Linked DNA regions of Homo sapiens. The protein of the gene in region 2 purifies or fractionates together with the protein of the main gene of each other region. This does not show direct contact. Each region holds a gene or a part of one and is shown on either strand. Other genes may lie near its edges.

Region 1 (3,731 bases), on a different chromosome or scaffold from region 2:
AAGGGACCCTTGGGATCCACGGGATGCCCGTTCCCCCACCCTGAGACACTCAGACCCCAAACACCAGCTTCATAGAGCTGGAGCCAGGGTGGCGTTGACAGCAGATGAGTGGACACCTCTCTGCATGGACACACAGGGTCCTGAGTGAGACCACACTGCTCGCCCAGCACAGAGCCTCAAACCTCCCCATCAGGCACTCACGGTCCCGGGCCACAAAAGTGCTTTTCTTCTGACTGACCAAGAGCCCCCCAGCTACAGTGCAAGTTCCCGAGAAAGGTAAACTTCAGGTGGATTAGCTGTCAGCAAAAGGAGGTGGGCTGAGCCCAGGTTGGGGTGCTGACTGTCCCAGTGCACCAGGTGGGTTTCATCTGAGTCTCTCCAGATGGCACCACTTCAGGGAGGACCTGTGCAGAGTGGTCTGGGCAGGGCTGCCCCAAGCCTAGCCTCCAGCCACCACTCCCCCACCCAAGAAGGCAGGCGGCCACTCACGTGAGCAAGTTTCCAGGCGCTGACAGTGAGCGTTCCTCCCGCCGGCTGCCCTCGAATGGGTTCCCAAAGGAGCGTTTACGTATCATGGTCTTCACCAGGATCTGAAGAGGGAGAAAAGAGGAGGTGGCAGGCAACTGCTTGGCCATGTGGGGGCGATTCTGGGCAACATCCTCCCTCTTCCTTCTCCCCAGCCCCTGCCAGCTCCCAGGGCTGGTGACCGATGGCAGACTTTGAGAGAAACTGGGCAGCACCACCCCGCAACCAACCCCCGCCGAAAGAATCCTCTGGGAAAAGGTGCTGTCCTGCACCACACCCTCAGCCACTGCTCAGCGTCTCTCCCAGGCCTCCCTGCTTTCCACCTCCCTCCCTCCCATCCCTTCCAAAACCCAGATCTGGTCCCCTCACTCCCTGACTCAGCATCCCCACCCAGAGGGGTCTGGAACTTGGCCTGTGGTCAGCCAGAGAGCCCCGGAAAGTTCTGGAGCAAGGACGTGAACCAGTCATTCTTGGTGATGCTCTTGGCTGCCATTTCCCATGAAGGGAATGGCCTGAGGGCCCCATAAGAGTCACTGGGCCCCTCACCCCACCCCAACCAGGGCACGGTGCCCCTTCAAGCTGTTTTGGGAATTCACAGAGCTTCTGACTTTTTAAGCATTTGCTGCTAACAAGAAAAATAAGTGTTTAAGAAACACTGATTTACCAAAAGATGCAAACACCCAAATGCCCATCAACTGAAGAAGATAAACTCAAAGCGGTCTGTCTGTGCAATGGAACATGATTCAGCCATAAGGAGTGAAGCACTGATCCATGCTACAACACAAACGGACCCTGAAAACCTTCTCCTACGTCAAAGTAGCCAGGCCCGAAAGGCCTCAGAGTGTAGGATTCCACCAGAATACACAAATCTATAGACACAGAGGGCAGGTGAGTGGGTGCCAGGGCTGGGGGGAGGTGAATGGAGAGTCATTGCTGATGGGCGGGGGTGTGAAGTAATGAAAATGTTCAGAACTATTGAGGAGATAATTGCATGTCACTGTGAATGTCCCAAATGTCACTGAATTGTTCACTTTAATTTTATGTTATGTGAATTCTACCTCAATTTAAAAGAAGGAGCGGGGGGGGGGAGGCGGGCGTGGTGGCTCATGCTTGTAATACCAGCACTTTGGGAGGCTGAGGCAGGTGGATCACCTGAGGTCAGGAGTTTGAGACCAGCCTGGCCAGCATGGAGAAACCGCGTCTCCACTAAAAATACAAAAATTAGCTGGGCATGGTGGTAGGCACCTGTCATCCCAGCTACATGGGAGGCTGAGGCAGAAGAATTGCTTGAACCTGGGAGGCGGAGGTTGCAGTGAGCCAAGACCACACCACTGCACTCCAGCCTGGGCAACGAGAGCAAAACTCCATCTCAAAAAAAAAAGAGAGAGAGAATGAAGGCCTCTTCCCCTACTGAGGTTCTTACAGTCACTGGGACATGCCAGCCCCTCTTTCCTCTGTGTCTGAGCAGATGTCACTCCCCAGGTGAGCCCACCCTGCCGCCTCCCCTGTGGCCTTGTCAACCCAGAGCAGGAGCTCCTCCTCTGTGAAGCCCCCAGCCCTTGCATCTCTCTGCACTGGCCTCTGATCACACAGGAGGCTGATTCTTCCCAGGTCCATCTTTCTTATAAGGCCAGGAGCCCCTCCCCCAGCCCCCCAGCCCCCTACCCCTGAGAGCAGGCACTGGGCTAAGCTCATCTTTGACACCTATGCCTGGCACACACTGGCTGCTCCGTGTTTGCTAAATGATGAACACATGCAGGGGGCCTGGACCTTGCCATCTTGTCCCAAGTCAGACCACTTCCCAGTATCTACCCGCCCATCCCTGCTCCAGCTGCCCTGGTTCAAACCCTGATTCAAACCCATGCTCTTGGAGTAAACATGTAAAACCTCGCCACACCCTCCCTCCACCTTCCTTGCCCTGCTTCAGTGGCCCCACCCAGTGTGTTAGCCCGTCCGCCCTCTCTCGGCGGAGTTAACACCCTACCATCCTCTCGGTGTCTATCCACTTCTTCCCAGTGGGTCCAAGTGTGCCTCCATTAGGGGCATGTCCTGTGGTCCCTCTACTGCACTGTACATACATTTGTTGGTTTGACCAGCATCTGCCTCTCAAGCATGGCAGAGGCCATGGGGGTTTTGTTCATCACTCCACCCAGCCCCTGCTCCCAGCACAGGCCTGAGAAACCACTCGGTGTTCAACAAGTGTTTCCCGTATAATGAATGCCTACTCCAGACCTCCAGGGCCAGACGCTTTCTCCCAAGAACCCGTCCCAGAGACCCAGGAAGGAAAGGGAGGGCAACTGATTCAGGACTGAGAACCTCCTGAGCCTGGAACACAGTAACCCACGGTGGGTGCAGAGTCCGACGCCAGCTGTCTCCTCGTCTACAGGCACAAGGGGTGGTTGAGGAAGGGTGAGTGGGTGTGGGTGGGTCTTCAACAGTGAAGGTCCTGCACAGCCCCAGGTGGGGAAAGAGTGGAGGAAGATGTGGATGGATGCCCCAGCCAGGGCTCAGCTTTGGGAGGAGGAGAGAGGAAGTGTGTGGGGAAGCAGAGAAGAGAGGTGCAAAGCTGGAGGAGCAGGAGCAGCATCTGGGCTCCTACAGGGGCAATCCTTCACAGCTGGACCTTCTGTGCCTTTCCAGCCAGTCTCAAGGGTCCCTCCCAGAGCCCAGGGGCCCGCCGGCCCACTGGGACTAGTGCTGGCCAACTGCAACCAGGCCTTTCGAGGTGGCTGTGGTGGGACAACCTGCTGGTCTCTGTCCCCAAGCCTGCTGCCTGGAACCTGGATCCCTGGGACTCTTGGTCTCTCTCTTGGAGCTAACTGCCCTCCTGGACAGGGACTTGGTCAGTGGCGATTCCCAGAGCCTCCAAGGTTAGGCCTGAGGACTCTACATTCTGGCTCCTTCTTCCTGGGTCAGGATCCAAATTCAAGGCCATAAAAGGGGACCTACTTGCTCCTAAGCAATTCTCACTCTCAGGAGATGGGCAGAACTTTCTGAGTGTGTGCGTGGAAGTCCCTGCCCCTACCCCTGGTGGCTGCCCACACAGCAGACGTGAGATATGCTACGCCATCCACCCTGGAGCCTAAAATTCCAGCTAGGCGGGAATCCTGGCTTAGAGACCTGGGCTCCGGCTCCCAACCCTTGCCCCTGCCTGGAACTTCTCCTAGTTCCTCTCCCCTGATGAGCTCTGAAAGCAGGAATTCCAG
Region 2 (3,500 bases):
TTTATCTAACTGAGAAAGGACTAAAAATCTTTATGTTCATGCCAAAGGAAAAGTAATTAATGTGAAATTTCAATATCAGAAAAGAAAAATATTTGTTAAGACAAAATTAACCTCATGGGTCTACCACATGAAATTTTCCATCAGCCAAAGTGAATTAATGTGGAAGGGAATAGGAGACTAAAGCTTTCAACCTGAATAATGATATAAAATAATTACATAATTCTAAAATGGGTGGAATTTTTTGTGTAAAAGCCATTAATATAATACTATAATAAACTTTATTTTAAAATATTAATTTCAGAATGAAATTTTTAGAAAGAACTAATATAAAATTGATACTAATAGATTATTTTCTGTATGTTTGCAGATATAATTGTGATTGAGTAAATGCATGTAACATAATACAATCAGATTTAAATACTGTGTAAGATTAAGCACTTCCTGTGCTTTGGGAACTATTGTCTGGGATTTCTGTTAACTCATGATTTAATGATTTAAATTAAAGTTGTCAAATCAATATTTGGTATGTCATCTCAAAGAGCTTTAAGATCTTATAGAGAAAATTATTTCAGATAAAAAGAATTCACATGTGGTATGAAGTCGTACAGAATCACAATTCAGTTAGGGAAGTCCATGTGTCTTAACTGTGAGCCATAACAGGTCATGAGTTAAATTTGAAACTCTTTATTCATCACTTCTTTTTTTTTTTTTTTTGGATTGGGGCTTTAGTCAGTCCATTCTGCCCACAAATAAGCTGTGATAAAATACAGTAGGTTTGTTCCAAAGTGCCCTGGCTTCCATTACAAAGAAACTTCTATTCTTTGTTGACTAGGGAAACCCAAAAGATACTCTAAAATTGGGAACTAATCATTGAGTGAACCAGAAAACAGGGTGCTAGCATCAAGAAATATTCCTTTGGTTTATATTGTTAAAAGCTGGGGTGCTGTAGAAAGTTCACACACACATAAAAGCGTCCATTTGCTTACGAGTTCAATTTTTAAAAAAACAGCATTAATGTAGATTTCAAGATTCATTGGAAGAATTGGATATTCACTATCTGAAAGGAAACATCACACTGTGTTAATTTTTGTGTTACAAACCTAATGTTTTTAAAAAATCTTTCCTTAGTTTCTTAAGTATGGTTGGGTTCATAAAGGAAATTTACTTTCATATAACAAAGTCCCTATATTTTATCTGGAATTAGTGATGAAAATCTTTTTGCTTAGCTGTTCATGGTAAGGGCTATTTATACTGTGAGTTTTTAAATAAGCCCATGAGCTAATCTACTATATTTAAGGGTTTAGGCAAAATTTGAAATACACCCCACAGGATATTAGAGCTCTCTTCACAGCACTTTGAGACCTAGCCTGTGAGTTCGGTGTGTTTGTTTGTAACATACCTGTTGGTAGAATTCTTTTGCTCAGAGACTGACAGAGAAACTGTAAAGCATTCCTCATGGGATGACTTGAATGTGCTTCTCATGGGACAAGTTAATATCTTAGCTGCTGCTTTGTCTTTTTTCCTTATTTTACCTCAAAATACTGTTTTAAGTTTTGATTTTGAAATTGATTCATTTTCTCCCAATTCTTTGTGCTCTTATTACTGTAAATGACATTAAAAGACCTGATTTTAAAATAGAGGCTATGGGAAAATAGAATCGCATATCACTAAAAATGACACCACCCTCCTCTTCCCTTTGCTTTTCCCTTTTCCTCTGTCCATTTTAAGCCCCCACCCTATGTGGGCTTTTTTTTTTTTTTTTTTTTTCCACACTGTGACATCCAACTGGCTCCTGGCAGGGTTTCAGGTTTGATTTTTCTGATAAATAAATAAACTTTTAATTTTATCTTAGAACAGTTTTTATTTATTTATTTTTATTTTATTTTAGAACAGTTTTTATTGATTTTTATTTTATTTCAGAACAGTTTTAGATTCCTAACATTATTACAAAGCTAATACGCATATGCCCTACACCCAGTTTCCTCTATAATTGACATCTCCATTAGGATAGTATAGTACGTTTGTTACAATCAATGAACCAATATTGATATATTATTATGGGGGCTATGTAACAGCAATATGACTTAGCACTATTGATACTGACCTTGATCATTTGGCTTGAGGGGTTTGTCAGGTTAAAATCTTACTTTCATTTTTTCTGAAGACCATCAAAGGGGTTTCCTGAAAATTTTAATGACATGTTAATTTGATTTTTCCTTATTGGCGATGTGGTAAAGCTGCTATAAGTTTCTAAGTATTTAGGCAAAAATAATTTTGATGGTGGTAAAGAACATCTTATCTTTTTTTATGTATGTGTTGTAGGTGGGAATGAGATCTCGAAACCAAGGTGGTGAAAGTGCATCTGATGGGCATATCTCCTGTCCCAAGCCCTCCATCATCGGCAATGCTGGTGAAAAAAGTCTCTCAGAAGATGCAAAAAAGAAGAAGAAATCAAATAGGAAGGAGGATGATGTCATGGCCTCAGGAACTGTCAAACGACACCTAAAAACATCTGGAGAATGTGAACGAAAAACTAAGAAATCCCTGGAGTTATCCAAAGAAGACCTCATCCAACTACTCAGTATAATGGAAGGGGAGTTGCAGGTAGAGTCAAACTTTCCCAACTGTTATTGTGTCTTTGGTTTCTAAGCTATAAAATAAGAGAATGTAAATCTGTTCCCCTCTCTGAGTAATGAACTTTATGGGGAAAGGAGAATGTTTCCCTTATTTCTAAATCCCTAGTGCCTGGCACAAGTTTGCACTAAATAAATATTTGTTGAATGAATGCTAAATGAAAAAGTGCTGATTCCAACTTCAAACTTCTCTAGAAGCAGAAAATTTCTTCATTATATGATTTTGGTGGTGATTTAATACAGATCCTTTCGGTCAGTAGGTAATCAATTAGGTTATCTAATTTAGACATTGACTGTGACTGAAAAATGTAGAAATGCAGTGATTATTAAAATGGAGAGTTCAGGTCAATTGCTAATTTTGCTTTTTTCTAGGAGGTAGAGTGAAAGAGAGAAGGAGAGATAGAGGTAAATAAGGCTTTGTTGAAACCAGCCTTATTGCCCAGTCTTTTCTCTCTTTTTTTAACTTTCAGTCTCAATATTCTACAACATCATAGGAATTGAGATGCACACAAATAAGCAGAGCATTGCATTCATTATGAAGAACCTAATAGTTTCCTAAGCATTTTCACATCCACTATCTCGTATGATCACAATAAAAATGTGGGTATCATCTGTATTTTATAAATGAAGAATCTGAGGCCCAGAAGGATTGAAGGTTTGTCCGGATCTCATCTCAGGCTTCCTGATTCTTCGTCCTATGCTCTTTCCTCTGCCCACCCCCACCAATCTTATTTAGTTGCCATGAGCCATGTCCCTCCCTCCCATTAAATCTATGTTTCTAGGGACCCAGGAGGCAGGCAGGAAGTGAGGATTCTTCTGAGTTTCTGAGCCCTGAACAATTATATTTCTGGAAGTAGAGGAACAATA
Region 3 (2,647 bases), on a different chromosome or scaffold from region 2:
TGAGGACTTCGTGGAGGGCCTGCGTGTCTTTGACAAGGAGAGCAATGGCACGGTCATGGGTGCTGAGCTTCGGCACGTCCTTGCCACCCTGGGTATGCCAGCTGGGCAGAGATGAAGACCAAGTGGGAGGAATGGAGGGGTGGGAGGTGCCAAGGTGACATATGCTGGTTGGGTGGGGGGTGGTATACAAGGGTCTTTGCATCCTGAGGATAATGACCTGATCCAGGCCCTGTCTCCCTGGGCTCTGCAAGAACAACCATTCCCAGTTGGGTTTGCTCAGCAGGTACCAGGGTTTGGGAGAGGAGGGGAGAGCAGGTTGGCAGAGCAGGGCTTACTACTGAGGCCTGAGAGGTGGGACTCAGGGCTTCTGTCCTTGTCTTTGCCTGAAACACTGAGGCTCTGGAAGCTGTAAGGCAGAGGGGGAGGCTTCGGAGACTAGGCAAGACCTTTAGACCCTTGGCCGCACCCTTCAGAACCTCTGGGAGAGGCTTGGTTTGAACCACCTCCCAGATCCAGGCAGTCTTGGACCTTCACACTTAAGGGGGTACTTGGGTATTGCCAGTTCCTCCTTTGCCATCTGTAATTAAGAGCGCACCACCTCCCAAACCCACCGCAGGAGAGAAGATGACTGAGGCTGAAGTGGAGCAGCTGTTAGCTGGGCAAGAGGATGCCAATGGCTGCATCAATTATGAAGGTATTAAGCCGCGCCTTGCATCCCAGGGCAGCCAGGGATGGTAGGATGGGAACAGCTTGGGTGGGGTGGGCCCAGGAGCTGGAGGGTATGTGTCTGAGGTGGGTTTTTGTAGACCCCCCATTGGATGTTGTTCTGTTCCATCTTGTGAGTGAACCTCCTAGTGTAATGGCGGGAGCATGGATTTTGGAGATAGCTCTGTGATATATTAGCTGGTGGGCTTGATTAAGTCACTGATTTTCTCTGAGCCTCAGTTTTCTCATCTGAGGGATGGGGGTGATGCTGGCACCTTTCTCAAGGCTGTGGGGATTCATAGAGATAATGTAGTTCATTCCATTTGTGTTGAGAATCAGCATAGAGAGTGGGCACAGAGCAGAGTCTAGGTATCTGCCCTCCACCCACCTTCTCCCCACCAACCCCCAAATAAGAGCAGGAACTACACAGTCTGGAGAAAGGGGAGCAGGAGGGTTAGAAGTCAGGCAGTGTAGAGAAGGGACAAGTGGTTTATGGGCCTAGAGGCGCTGAGCCACATGGTGGCTGATTTTCACTTTTTTCCTAGCCTTTGTCAAGCACATCATGTCAGGGTGAAGCAGAGTCTTCCAGGTGAGTGCAGCCTCTCCCTCCTGGTCCCTTCCGGGGTCACATAGGGCCTTAAGAATAACACCATGTGCCCTAGAAGGCATCTGTCCCAGCCCTGACCCCTTAAGAGGAAACCTCTTGGGATCAGGAAGTGAGGACAGCCCTGCTCACTCACCATCTCCTGTCTCCTGCCTGCCCTTGCCTGTTCACCCTGTCTTGACCCTATCAGTCACATCCTCTTGCCTCTCCCAGGATCTCTCAAGGCAATGCCCTTCCCTCAGGCCTGGGGCCTCCTGTACAGGCTCCTGGGAGTGAGAAAGCCGATCCCAAGTGGAAGAGAAGGTCCCTGGCCTGTGCTCTTGACCCCGTTCTTCCTCACTTCTTTCCCTAGGTTTTCCCTGGGATCCCCCTGGGTGTGGTAAGGGGCTGGGTCTAGGAGGGTGAAATGCCCTTTCCTCCTAGCACTTTCTTTCAGGTGCCTGGCCCTTGGCTTTAGCCATACCAGGGTGAGTTAAAGAGAGGCCCCGGCTGGGTGAGCTGAGATGGAGTCCTCGACTTATCACCACACCACTGCCCCAAGGACCTTACAGGCCCTCCCTGTTAATAAACAGCTCTAACACGGCCAGGCTGGGCTCTGGGATTCTGACCAGTCTCTGTTTTGTTTGTTTTTTTAAAACTAATTAACGAATTGCATTGGTTTGCGTTGTGTGTGTGTGTGTGAGAGAGAGAGAGATAAAGTCACCTGAGGCCTCATGTGTGCTCAGAGAAATGAGTAGTATCTGGGAGCTAGGAGACAAGGACAAAAGCCTGTGGATCTAGAGATATTGGGGTCAGACCCAGGAGAGCAAGCTCTGGAAGGCCAGCAGCTTGAGGAGTTGTCACCTGGAGGAGTTTTATTCCCTTTGGGCTCACCCTCTACCTAATCACACCTCCAGATGGCAGGCAGAGAGGGGCCAGGCTGAGGCAGGGACTCCTCCTTTGGTCCTTGCTCTTGCTGCTTTTAAACAAAAATTGTTGTAAAATACACATAACATGAAATTTACCATCTTAACCATTTTTAAGCATACAAGTCAGTAGAGTGAGGTATATTCACATTGTTGTGTAACTGTATTAGTCTCTTTTCATGCTACTGATAAAGACATACCTGAAACTGGGAAGAAAAAGAGGTTTAATGGATTTACAGTTCCACATGGCTGGGGAGGCCTCACAATCATGGCGGAAGGCAAGGAGGAGCAAAGGCACATCTTACATGGATGGCGGCAGGCAAAGAGAGCTTGTGCAGGGAAATTCCCCTTTTAAAAACCATCAGATCTTGTGAGACTTATTCACTATCATGAGAACAGCATGGGAAAGTTACCTCCTACTGGGTCCCTCCCA

The links.
Region 1: the proteins of FILIP1 (region 2) and CAMKK2 purify together in Homo sapiens (affinity purification with mass spectrometry; one large-scale study listed by BioGRID and IntAct). This does not show direct contact.
Region 3: the proteins of FILIP1 (region 2) and MYL4 purify together in Homo sapiens (affinity purification with mass spectrometry; one large-scale study listed by BioGRID and IntAct). This does not show direct contact.

Annotation. Positions count from the first base shown.
Region 1 is NC_000012.12:121,244,651-121,248,381, forward strand, and holds part of CAMKK2 (calcium/calmodulin-dependent protein kinase kinase 2), read right to left. Parts: intron 591-3,731; coding exon 490-590; intron 1-489. UniProt on the Homo sapiens protein: Calcium/calmodulin-dependent protein kinase belonging to a proposed calcium-triggered signaling cascade involved in a number of cellular processes. Isoform 1, isoform 2 and isoform 3 phosphorylate CAMK1 and CAMK4. Isoform 3 phosphorylates CAMK1D.
Region 2 is NC_000006.12:75,413,801-75,417,300, reverse strand, and holds part of FILIP1 (filamin-A-interacting protein 1), read left to right. Parts: intron 1-2,104; exon of another isoform or gene 2,105-2,181; intron 2,182-2,322; coding exon of another isoform or gene 2,323-2,328; coding exon 2,329-2,604; intron 2,605-3,500. UniProt on the Homo sapiens protein: By acting through a filamin-A/F-actin axis, it controls the start of neocortical cell migration from the ventricular zone. May be able to induce the degradation of filamin-A.
Region 3 is NC_000017.11:47,221,764-47,224,410, forward strand, and holds the end of MYL4 (myosin light chain 4), read left to right. Parts: coding exon 1-92; intron 93-616; coding exon 617-694; intron 695-1,250; coding exon 1,251-1,279; 3' UTR 1,280-1,294; intron 1,295-1,745; 3' UTR 1,746-1,916; downstream 1,917-2,647. UniProt on the Homo sapiens protein: Regulatory light chain of myosin. Does not bind calcium.